2 separate regions of the Homo sapiens genome follow, and region 2 is linked to region 1. Evidence: fine-mapped expression QTL. A gene starts in region 1. The other region holds a variant in brackets. All regions are shown on one strand. Distances are from middle to middle. Region 1 holds the start of TREM1 (triggering receptor expressed on myeloid cells 1). Region 2 overlaps TREML4 (triggering receptor expressed on myeloid cells like 4).

Evidence for each region. PIP is the estimated chance that this variant, and not a neighbour inherited with it, causes the effect.
Region 2: its variant is the best candidate, but not a certain one, in a credible set for the expression of TREM1 in whole blood (TOPMed, PIP 0.67).

Annotation. Positions count from the first base shown.
Region 1 is chr6:41,284,649-41,290,030 of GRCh38, forward strand. It overlaps TREM1 (triggering receptor expressed on myeloid cells 1), which reads right to left and starts at 2,034. Exons shown (of 4, transcript NM_018643.5): 1 at 1,959-2,034. The coding sequence starts at 2,007. RefSeq lists a silencer at 4,019-4,108.
Region 2 is chr6:41,235,465-41,240,846 of GRCh38, forward strand. It overlaps TREML4 (triggering receptor expressed on myeloid cells like 4), which reads left to right. Exons shown (of 6, transcript NM_198153.3): 5 at 1,022-1,153; 6 at 1,591-3,418. The coding sequence ends at 1,118. It also overlaps the pseudogene RNA5SP207. Among named protein-coding and RNA genes, the nearest start is that of TREML4, 9.8 kb to the left of the region's middle. RefSeq lists enhancers at 3,662-4,198, 4,199-4,733. The variant G/A (reference allele first, on the strand shown) is at 2,289.

The DNA.
Region 1 (5,382 bases):
TGCTGTTATTAATACCACACACTTAGGTCCTTGCAGGCCTGGTGAAAAATGACAAGTGCTTACCCTTTCATGGAGCCCCCTGGCATGCCCACCCCAGGATAGGCCAACAGATCTGCCTGACCTTAGGAAGACTCAACTCAGGGACTCACAAGGAGTTTAAAGGTGAAATCAGTCTTGAAAGCCAGTTCTTCTGGGAGCAGACTCCAGTTTCTAGGGAAACCTCGGAAACAGACCTCTTGGGCAACTCCCACACACTCCAGTCAGGAATGTGCCTCCAAGAGACTGTTGACCAGAGGCTGAGTGTTGTCTGAAACCAAGCCTGGTTCCCTCATTTGTTCACTCACTCATCAGACTGGCTGGGAGACTTCTCTATCATAGGCACTGTGCTGGGCTCTTTGGAAGACACACAGACTCCATCCTCAAGTTGCCACCACTGAAGCCCTAACCTCTGAAGTTAATGTTACAGATAAATCTCTTTTATTTGCCAGCTCCCCAGGGAAGGTGGGAGTTACAGGTGACTGAGTTTGCAAACTTGCCTGTCTCTCACAGAAGGAAGGAGACAATAAGAAATGAAGGCTGCTGAGCTGTCTGTGCACAATTGCAAGAAGGGAATTCCTTTGAATATGTTAATTAAAAGGGTAGCAAATACTACCTATTAAGTATTATGTGCTAAGGGTTTTTAAAGACTATCTTATTTAATCTTTATAAAGTAAAAAGTTGACACCATTATTCTCCCCATTTTATAGATAAGGAAACTGAGGCACAGACAGATTAAGTGATTTGCCCAAAGTCTCACCATAGTTAAGTACTAGAGCCAGGATTCAAACCCAAGGACTCTGGTTCCACCTAAAGCACTGAGCTACATGGTCCAACACAGTCTGATAGGGATTAGAGAAGTCCTGGCCCAAGTGTGAATAAGTATCCAGTTGCAAGGAGCATTGAGGTTAACCCCTAACCTATCCCCACAGGGCACAATGAAATATATACCACTGGTTTTCTCTCACACAGGTACATAACCTTCAGCCCTCTGCCATCTCCCAGTTCTCCTTCAGAAAAACATGAATCAAACACAAGGAAATGCACTTGTCCATGAGGAGCTAACTCCCTTCTGCCCATCTAGATTATCACCCCAGCTCCAAGAAGACCCAGAGCAATGTCTGAGCACAGGCTCTTCAAGGCAGTTGTCCATGACTTTGCTCAAAGTAGAGAGCCCAGGAGGATACCTCTCCCTGATTTTTCATGCCTTCCCAAGGCAAGCCTCGCTTTTAACTCATATTGACACTTTCCTCCTGTTATTCATAAGGATTAGGAGGAGGAGTGAATAAAGCCCGCATGCTTCTGGTTTGGGTGCAGATGTGAGCTGTGCGGATCGTAAGAGGAGACACAAGAAAGAGCTGGGGCATGCGCCGGCTCTGCTGAGCCTCAGCAACTGTGCCCTCCAACCCCAGCGTGCCATGGAGAGCTGGGATGATCACCTCCACCAAAATGAGCACCAGCCTCTTCTGGTCACGTCTGTGTCCTCAGCAGTAGTATATTTGCTGTCCCATAGTAGACCCCTGGGAAATATTTGTTAAATCAATTCTGTCTTTTGGGTTTAACAGATTGTCAACATCAAACACATCATGATGGAATATAAGAAAAAAATTTCAACATCAAATAAACTTATTGTAGATCATGCCATGATGAGATCTACTCTATCATTATTCCCATACTAGGCTTTGCATGTCTCTAACAACATCGACATGCACAGACATCTTTTTTCCCTGACTCTCTCCTTCTTTTACTTTTGTGTGCAGACACTGCATGTTCTCCCAATTCTGGGTAGAGCAGCACGGTCTGCCATAACTACTGGTTGGCTCTATCTTGGATGGCCCTGTGCTCTGAAGCTTCAACAGAAAAGGGCTCCCCGAGATCCTGGACCAAACGCCTCCCCTGCTCAGTCCTCTTCCTTGTCTTACCTGAGACAAAGAGCATCCACAGCAGCCCCCAGAGCCTGGTCTTCCTCATCCTTCCTGTGCACCAGCTCCAACTGCTGCTGAGGGCTCCCGGGACAGCTACAAGGCACCACAATGACCTAGAGGCTTCGGAAAGTTGCACAACAGGATATGAGGCCATTCCTGGGAGTCACTGAGTTTGGGTTCTGTTTCATCACCAGTTGCTCTGACTCCTGACATCAACACAATAATACAGAGACCAAGACTCACTTCTCAGTTAAGTTTCTTTGAACTCCAGTTTTCCTTTCTGTGGTAATAATGACAATTACCTTTCAACCTTACAAAATCTAAGGGAGAATGATACTTGAATGTAAATCAAAGTAAGGCATTCATATTAGGAAGGGGAACAGAGGGCCCTTTGCTCTCCAGAGGCCCCCTCTCCATTCACATCCAGTTTAGTGTAGTGAAGAGAGTCAGGCCCACATAGGGAGAGGCTGCGACAATCGTATCTCATCTTCAGGGTTTTTGTGAGAACATGTTGCTTCATCCTGCCCTGCTCAGCCCCGTGGGTTCTCTTGGCTTCTGGTGACCTGGGGTGCACCTCCTCTTCATCACCAGGAGGGCCACACCCTGCATTTGTCCTTCAGCATTGCCACAGACATGGCCTGGGAGCTCACGGGGGTGTAGGGACCCCAGAAACAATTTGAGAGGACACTGCCACCACCCAACAAGAACAGACTTAGATTTAAAAAGGAAACTTGGTTCAAGACGCTGAAGCAAGAAGAAAAAATCCAGCAGGTTTTGTACTAGAAGCAAGAAAAGACAGATTTGACAGTGTGAAAATCAAATCAATAATGGAGAGGATTCACTTCAGAAATATTCCCAAATGTGAAATGAATAAAGACATTTAGAAGAGCTCAGAAATTTAAGGGAGGACAAATCACAGAATTCCAATCTACAAATCAGAGATGTCCTTAAAGCATAAAATGGAATGGTGGATCACAAGCAAGATTAAAAATTTTATCTTAAAAAATATGCTTTCCAGGTCTGAGAAGAAATCTAAAATTGGAGGTTGAGAGTTCAACATGGGCAAGGAAAAAATTCACAAAGTGAGACCTAGAATAGGAAGTTTCCAGGTGAAAATTTTTAAATTTAAATAAAAAGATTCCTACTGCTAAATAAACAAAAAAATAACTTGGTTTCTTCAAAGGAATTGAAATAATCAGGACTCAGATTTCTTCTCTGAGTAACAAATACCATGAGAGAGTGGGATGAGGTATAAAGAACATTATGACCCTAATATTTTACACCCAAATTGATTGCTACTCAAGTATAGGAACAGCTAAAAGGTACTATCATGTCTGTAAATTAAAACAAACAACAACCAAAAAAATTTTCAAGGCTAACTTTAATTTTTTTTATTAAAGCTGTTCAATGCAGCAATTTATAAAATATAGAAAATAATACATAAACTTAAATCATGTTATTACACTTTATAGAGATCATTTGTAGTGGAGATTTTACTATGTTTATTTTTTGTTCTACAAATAATGTCGGAAAACAGGCTTCAAACATGCTTGAACTGAAATCTGCTGGCCCCTCCTTTTGCTGTACTCAAGCAGTCCCTAAAGAGGAAAAATAGACAGAAAGCTCTTGACATTTTCTGACTCAGAGAGGAGCCTACGTGACTTCTGTGGCGATGAGTCAAATTAATAAAGTTTATTTCAGTGAATAAATCCCCTCCTTACAACAAAATTAATATTCCACACTTAAATAATAGCTATTTCACATACTTTCTACATTTTTGTGTCTTCATATACTTTGTGTGGAGGATTAAGCTCCTGGAAGATTAAGAGGGAGCTTTGAACTAAACAGTCCAAGAAGAATTTTTAATTAGACTTGAATATCACTGGAGGCTGATTGCTCCTTCACATTTTCCTAACTACGGACAGCACCTGCATTTAAATTAGAATGAAGTAGAATGAGGTCTTTCTCCACTTGTCTGATCTATTTGTGTACTTGAGGTCAACAGTGCAAATAGTCACGTGTCACTTAATGACAGATACATTCTGAGAAATGTGTTGCTAGGTGATTTTGTGTTGCAGGAACATCATGGAGTGCACTTACACGAACTTAACATGGCACAGCCTACTGTACACCTAGGCTGTATGGTATAGCCTATTAATATTAGGAAGGGGAACAGAGGGCCCTTTGCTCTCCGGAGGCCCCCTCTCCATTCACATCCAGTTTAGACAAATACCTTTCAACCTCACAAAATCTAAGGGAGAATGATACTTGAACATAAATCAAAGTAAAGCATATTCCTAGGCTGCAAGCCTGCACAGTATGTTACAGTCCTCAATACTGTAGGCATTTGTAACACAATAGTAAGTATTTGTGTATCTAAACATAGAAGAGGCATAGTAACAATACGGTATTATGACATTATAATCTTATGGGACCTCCACCATATATGCAGTCTGTCATGGACCAAAACTTCCTTGTGCAGCACATGGCAGCATTCTCTAATCCTTACCACTTTATTTTTCTGAGGAGTTTAATGACCCGATCAGTAACTTCTTCAGGCTGAATAGGCAGGACGATATTCCTGCCTAACTATTAGGGTCTCTTTAAATTCTCAAGCTACTGCTCCCAACAAGATATTATTTCTTAAGGCTTCTCATAGAAGAGCACTGTCATTTGTGACCTATGGTTCCTGTTAATTTTACTAAGGCTGGGTCACATGTCCCATTTCCATGCTTGCTCATAGGGTGGCCTCTAGCACTAGGAAGATTTAGTCTTTGGGTACCATGAACCTTTCCATATTTGCCAAACTTCATCTTCAGAGCTATTATGAAATCAATACAGTTTCAACATTGATACAATTAATGAAATAATACCAATATTATTCTGTTTTGTTTTGTCTTCAATAAGTCACTGCCCCAAGTCAGTAGGTCTCGATCTTCACTATGGGGTAAATTAGCAGTTTCTTCCTTAATAAAGATTGGTTAATCTAACCTAGCTAGAATATATGTGTAACATTTTTTAACAATGAGATTGCATATAAAATATCTTCTTTTCTGGCTCAGAGGAGGGGCCCACATGGAACTGGAACACAGATCTCTGAGGATAGTGTGACCCTGGTGCTGATATCTCTGAGGAGGCCCAATGAGACTACTTCTGAGAGTGGGGAAAACTGCAAACTGGAACCAGTCACTGTTGCCCGTGAAAAGCATCACTGAGGCTACTCACAATGAAAGAGAATGAAATAGGAATCAGTGAGCATGTCCTGTCTTCCTCCTCCAGCCTCCCAATCTCCCTCTAATGCCCCTATCGAGAGTCCAGCAGGGAACCAGCCAGCAAAGACAAAGCGAGTTTCAGAATCTCCACTCAAACCAAGGTAAAGAAGTGTTAATCAGAGAGACGATGACTGAATAACCAGCTCACT
Region 2 (5,382 bases), 49 kb before region 1:
AGAGTTTAGCAAGGCTGCCAGATACAAAATCAACTGACATACATTACAAATAGATTTCTATGAGGAATAATCATTTAGAAAAATAAGATCGTTTTCATTACAGTCACAAAGTCTATAAAGTTTCTAGAAAGAATTAATTTAACCAAGACCTGTTTGGAGAAAAGTATAAAATGCTAAAAAATGACAGGTGATCTGAATAAATAGAAACAATCCATGACTTTGGAAGAGGCAATAACATTGTAAATATGTCAATTTCTCCCAAATTAAAAAGTCTTTAAATGTAATCCCAAACACAACTTCTTTACTTTTGTAAAGAACTTGAAAAATTTACTCTAAAATTATATGAAAAAGGAAGATACATGAGTAGCTAAGTCAACCATGAAAAAGTGAAAATAAAAAGAGCTCACTGACTTTATCATATATTATGTAATACTGAGGCAGAAAGTTACCAAGGCCACAAGAGAAAAGCAGATTTGCTGGGACAGGGTAGTCCTAGATCAGAGCTAGGCAGGCCAGGAGTGGGGGCTACACAGAGGGGATGAGGGAGGACCCCTGGGACCAACAGACAGGAGGTCTAGGTCTGTGCTGTCACCACTCCTAAGGGTCTGGTCAGGTCCTGTGCAGTCTCTAGGCCTCATTTCCTCAGATGTGATATCTTGGCTGGTCTTGAAGATGCACTGGGCTCTGATTCCTAAGGTCGGATGGTCCCATCCGACCTGACCTGGTTAGGGAGAATTCCTGCTCCCCCAGCTCTATCCCTCCCCTTCCCTGAACTCCAATCCCTTGTTCTTCCCCTGGCCAGCTTTTTCCTCCGTTCAAGACTTTGAGGTTCCTTCTGACTAGGTCCCCTCTCAGTCCCAGAGACCTCTGTGGCTCCTGCCCCACACCCCTCTGTCATCGTTCAGGGTGGGCCCTTACGCAAACAGCTCCAGCTACAAGGGGCCTGCCTGGCTTAGGGACACCGCAGGAGGTGGTGACATCCTGGCCCAAGTCCATCCTCCTTTCTCCTTCTTCCCTGCAGGAAATCAAGAGCCCCTGCCTGCCTTGGCTCAGGTGGCCCCAGATTCCTGGTCTTGGTGCTATGTGGACTCCTCCTGGCCAAGGGCCTGATGTTGTGAGTCCTGTTAGTGCTCCTGATCTGCAGGTGCCACAGGTGAGGGGGCCTGGATTTCACCTGGGGGCAATGGAGCTGGGGCCAGATTCTGTTCCTAGAAAGATGGCTAGGAAGAAGCAGCCAGGTCACAGAGGCAGGAAAAATGACAGCTGGGAACAATTTAAAAGTGTGTTTCCTTGCAATCTCTGCCTTCCTGCAGACACAGACCTTAGAAAGAGACAGAGGCTTTCTGGGAGTCCCATCCCAGGGCTCTGCCTCTGTCTCTGTCCTGAGAGGAAAAAGACCAGGAGGACAAAGCTGAGAGTGCCTGGGTAGAAGGTTTAGGAGACAGGAAGGGGCAGGGAAGGAAGCAGGTGACAGGGAGAAGGCGGGGGAGGGGCGGGAAGAGGAGTAACAGGTAACAGGGACAGGGTGAGACAAAGGATCAGAAAAGCATCACTTCCATTCATGACTTTCCCCCTCTTGCCCCATCTCAGGACAGCAGTGACGAGGTTTCTGATTGTCCCAGCACAGCCTTGTCCCAGGACCCTTGGGTGCATGAGCCACAACATGGATCCTGGATGAATCCCAGTTCTTCCCCTGCCCAGCTATTGGGAGCTGGCCTAAGTATTGCTCCCCACCTCCTTGTGAGGAAAGGCTAGCGCTAAGCCTATTGGAGAGAACTTTCAGCCCCTGAACTCCCCGGTGGTGACCCCTCACCCCTGCACTGAGCCCCCTTAGATCTACTGCCCCTGCCCTGACTTTCGCCATTGGGAAGACCTGGGGTGGGGGTTTCTGCATCCGGGTCAATGCCCAGCTCAGCATCTTCAGCTGTGCCCAGGCTCCTCTCCAGCACTCTGTCGTTCTCTGAGCCCCACCTCAGCAGGTCTCCAGGATCCCTCACATTTCCCCTGTTTGTTGCCTGTGGTCTGCCCTAGAGTCCTATGAATTTCCTCTTGTGCTTAATTAAATTCAACCTCTGAACTGAAATGTGTCAGGGGCAGCTGAGCAAGACAGCAGTTGTATCCCCTCACCTTCCTCCCGTCCCACCCCAGATATCCTAAATGAGAGAGAAATGACTTAAAAATAAATGATAAAATTGAAACTAAGAAAGGCTGTAATCAGCAGACTGGAAGCTGAGGAAGATCTAGAAGTAAAAGAAAAAATTAGATGCGTTAAAATGACATGAGCAGGC[G/A]ACTCAGTGGCCCAAAACAGGACCCAGAACATTCATCCGTAAATGGAATCTGATAATCTGGGGCCCAAATTCTGTTTACTTAACATGTGAGAAGATTCACAGCCTAAAAGAGAAAATCAAGTTGAACTAACAATAAATGATGGTGGGTGAAAGATAAATGTTTTAGGGAACAGAAGAGGAGCACATATTTATGAAGCAAGAATAGGTACAGTCATTTTCCAACTAACATCTAGTGAGACTGGGATTCACCACTCAGAATGGGGGTCCACCATGAGCAACAGATTTGAGGTACCAGTGCATAGCAGCTGAATGCCAGCCCTGTAAAAGACCACCATAAAGAGAGCTCCATGTTCTTTTGCTCTTTTGGGGATGGGACATCAAACAAAAGTCTCTTCGTGTATATCTCAGCTCCTGCCACATGATCATCACCTATCTGTGAGAGGCATCGCTTTTGCTTTGTTTATTTATTTTTTTAATCCTCATTCCCTATGTCCACTTGCCTTCCTCTCCGAGGCAACTACTCTAATGCATTTGGTATGTAACTTTAAATTTGAATGTATTCTTGTAAAACATCCAGTATTTTTTTTTCTGTGACTATGTTTTCACTTACATAAAAGAAATTGTGATAGACCTTTTTCATATGCTTGTCTTACTCCTTGCTGGGCACATATACACAGCCCACTTCTTTTCAGTGCTTATTCCATTGCGTACATATCCCACAGTGCATCATTCCGAACCCAGGGTGCATGTGCTTTTTTGCCTTCACTTTTCTATATCATAAATGATGCTGTGATGAATACCCTCCTTCACGTTCTCTTGTGGAATCATGTGAGACTTCCTTTAGGACTTATACACAGGTGGCATCAGCTGGGTTGTGGGATCTCAGACATCTAATTAATACTGCCAGCTTGTGTTGCCTGAACCAAGAATCTAGACACTAGCGATTATGTGTTTTCTCTGAGTCTATGTGAAGTACACAGCACAACCTATGGAATGGTATTGCCAATTAAAAAAAAAATGGAAGGCAAGAATAAACGTAGCTGAGTGATGCTACATGGGGCTAGATATATGATTATCTCTACTTTTGTGTATGCTTGGAAATTTTCATAATTAAAATGGTACCTAAAATTAAACACTTGTGTCTTGAAGCCACTGCTATTTGGTTTTCAGTCGTATGTGGCTGAACCCAGTTCTTTCTTATTGAACTTTTACAACTGCAGTAGGTTGGGAAAAGTTGACTTGTCGTATGGAAATATTGAGCTTCACTTAAAGAACATTGATAGTGGGATAAAAATGGACTAAATAAAAATAAGTCTTCCTTAATCAGATGCTAAGAGCTTAGCATTTAGCTATAACTTTTAAATATTTTATCTTAACATCCTTGGCCTCAAAATTGTCATAATTCCCTTAACCACAATTTTCAAGCAGGTGGTAAATTCTGTGTCATAAGTTAACATCTAAAAAATGTAGCTTTCTTTAAAATTTTGAACATTTCTTATTGTTTTCTTACCTTCATAGTGTTGCTATGGAAATGTCTGATAATAATCTGATAGTTATTCATCTCTACTGACCAATTTTATCTCTGGAACATTTTATAATTTTCTTTTTGAAATTTGTATTATAATGGGTGTAATGTGGGGTAATTATCCATTTTTTCCTTTTTTTTTTTTTTTTTTCTTTTTGGGCGAAAGAGGGGGAAAAGAGTCAGGGGGTGGTTGGGAAGCCCGGCGACAAAAGGGGGAAAGAGGGAGGGAGCAGGAAGCCAAAAGCCTATATCACCCGGTATTCCCAGGCGGAATCCCATCCAAGTACTAACCAGGCCGACCCTGCCTGGGGCGTGCCTCGGGCACTTTCAGGGTGGTATGACCCTAGAGGCCAGCAGTGGCGCCTGGCTGCCCCAACAGCCCGCGGTGCTGCAGCGGCAGACCTCCACGAAGAGGTCCCGGGCTCCCGCGGGGGCGCAGGCGAGCGGAAAAGTGGGAGAAGAGTCAAGAGGTGGTTGGGAAGCCCGGCGGCGACAAAATGAGTAAAGAGGGAGGGAGCAGGAAGCCAAAGCTTGATTATACATTCTATTTGGAACTCTCTGAACACATTCAGTCTGATGTCTTACATATTTGTTTAATTCGGAAAAATCCTTGGTATTATTTTTTCAAGAAGTTCTTCTACTCCATTTACTCCTTTTTCTCCTTTGAGGACTTCTTTGAGGAGATATTGACATTTGTTTCTATCCTCCATACCTCTTAATGTTTCCCTTACACTTTCTATCACTTTATTCCTTCCTAATGCCTTTAGGAAGTGCTCCTTGACTCTTTCCCTTACCTACTCATTCTTCTGCTAGTCATTGCATTCAGAGTTTTCTTTCAGCAATGATCATTTTCTTAATCAATATTTCTAATTTTTTCTTCTTCATTATTGCTTGCTTCTGTTTTATGCTTCTAATATTGTTCCTTATTGCTCTGAGAATATCTGCTATGCTTATTGAAATCATTGTTTTCCCACTGGTTCTGCTTTCTCTGTAATAGATTATTCAATTTATTTCTTTATAAGAAATTTGTTCTATTTGTTATCTTTTTATAGCATTTGGTAATTTTTCTTGTATTCTCATCTTTTATTCCCTTCCCACCCCTTTTTTTTGAGGATCAGTTAATTACTGCAGATTTCACTGCCTAAGGAAGCCCCAGAGGTAAATAGAGTTGATGAGTTTGCCATAAACCATCCAAATATAGAGATACTATATCACAAAGATAGCCATTCACATCAGTGAGTTTATTTAACAATGAAAACAGCATATGTGGCCGGGTGCGGTGGCTCACGCTTGTAATCCCAGCACTTTGGGAGGCTGAGGCAGGCAGATCACAAGGTCAGGAGATCGAGACCATCCTGGCTAACATGGTGAAACCCCGTCTCTACTAAAAATGCAAAAAAAATTAGCCAGGCGTGGTGGTGGGTGCCTCTAGTCCCAGCTACTTGGGAGGCTGAGGCAGGAGAATGGAGTGAACCCGGGAGGTGGAGGTTGCAGTGAGCCAAGATCGCGCCACTGCACTCCAGCCTGGGTGACAGAGCGAGACTCCGTCTCAAAAAAAAAAAAAACAAA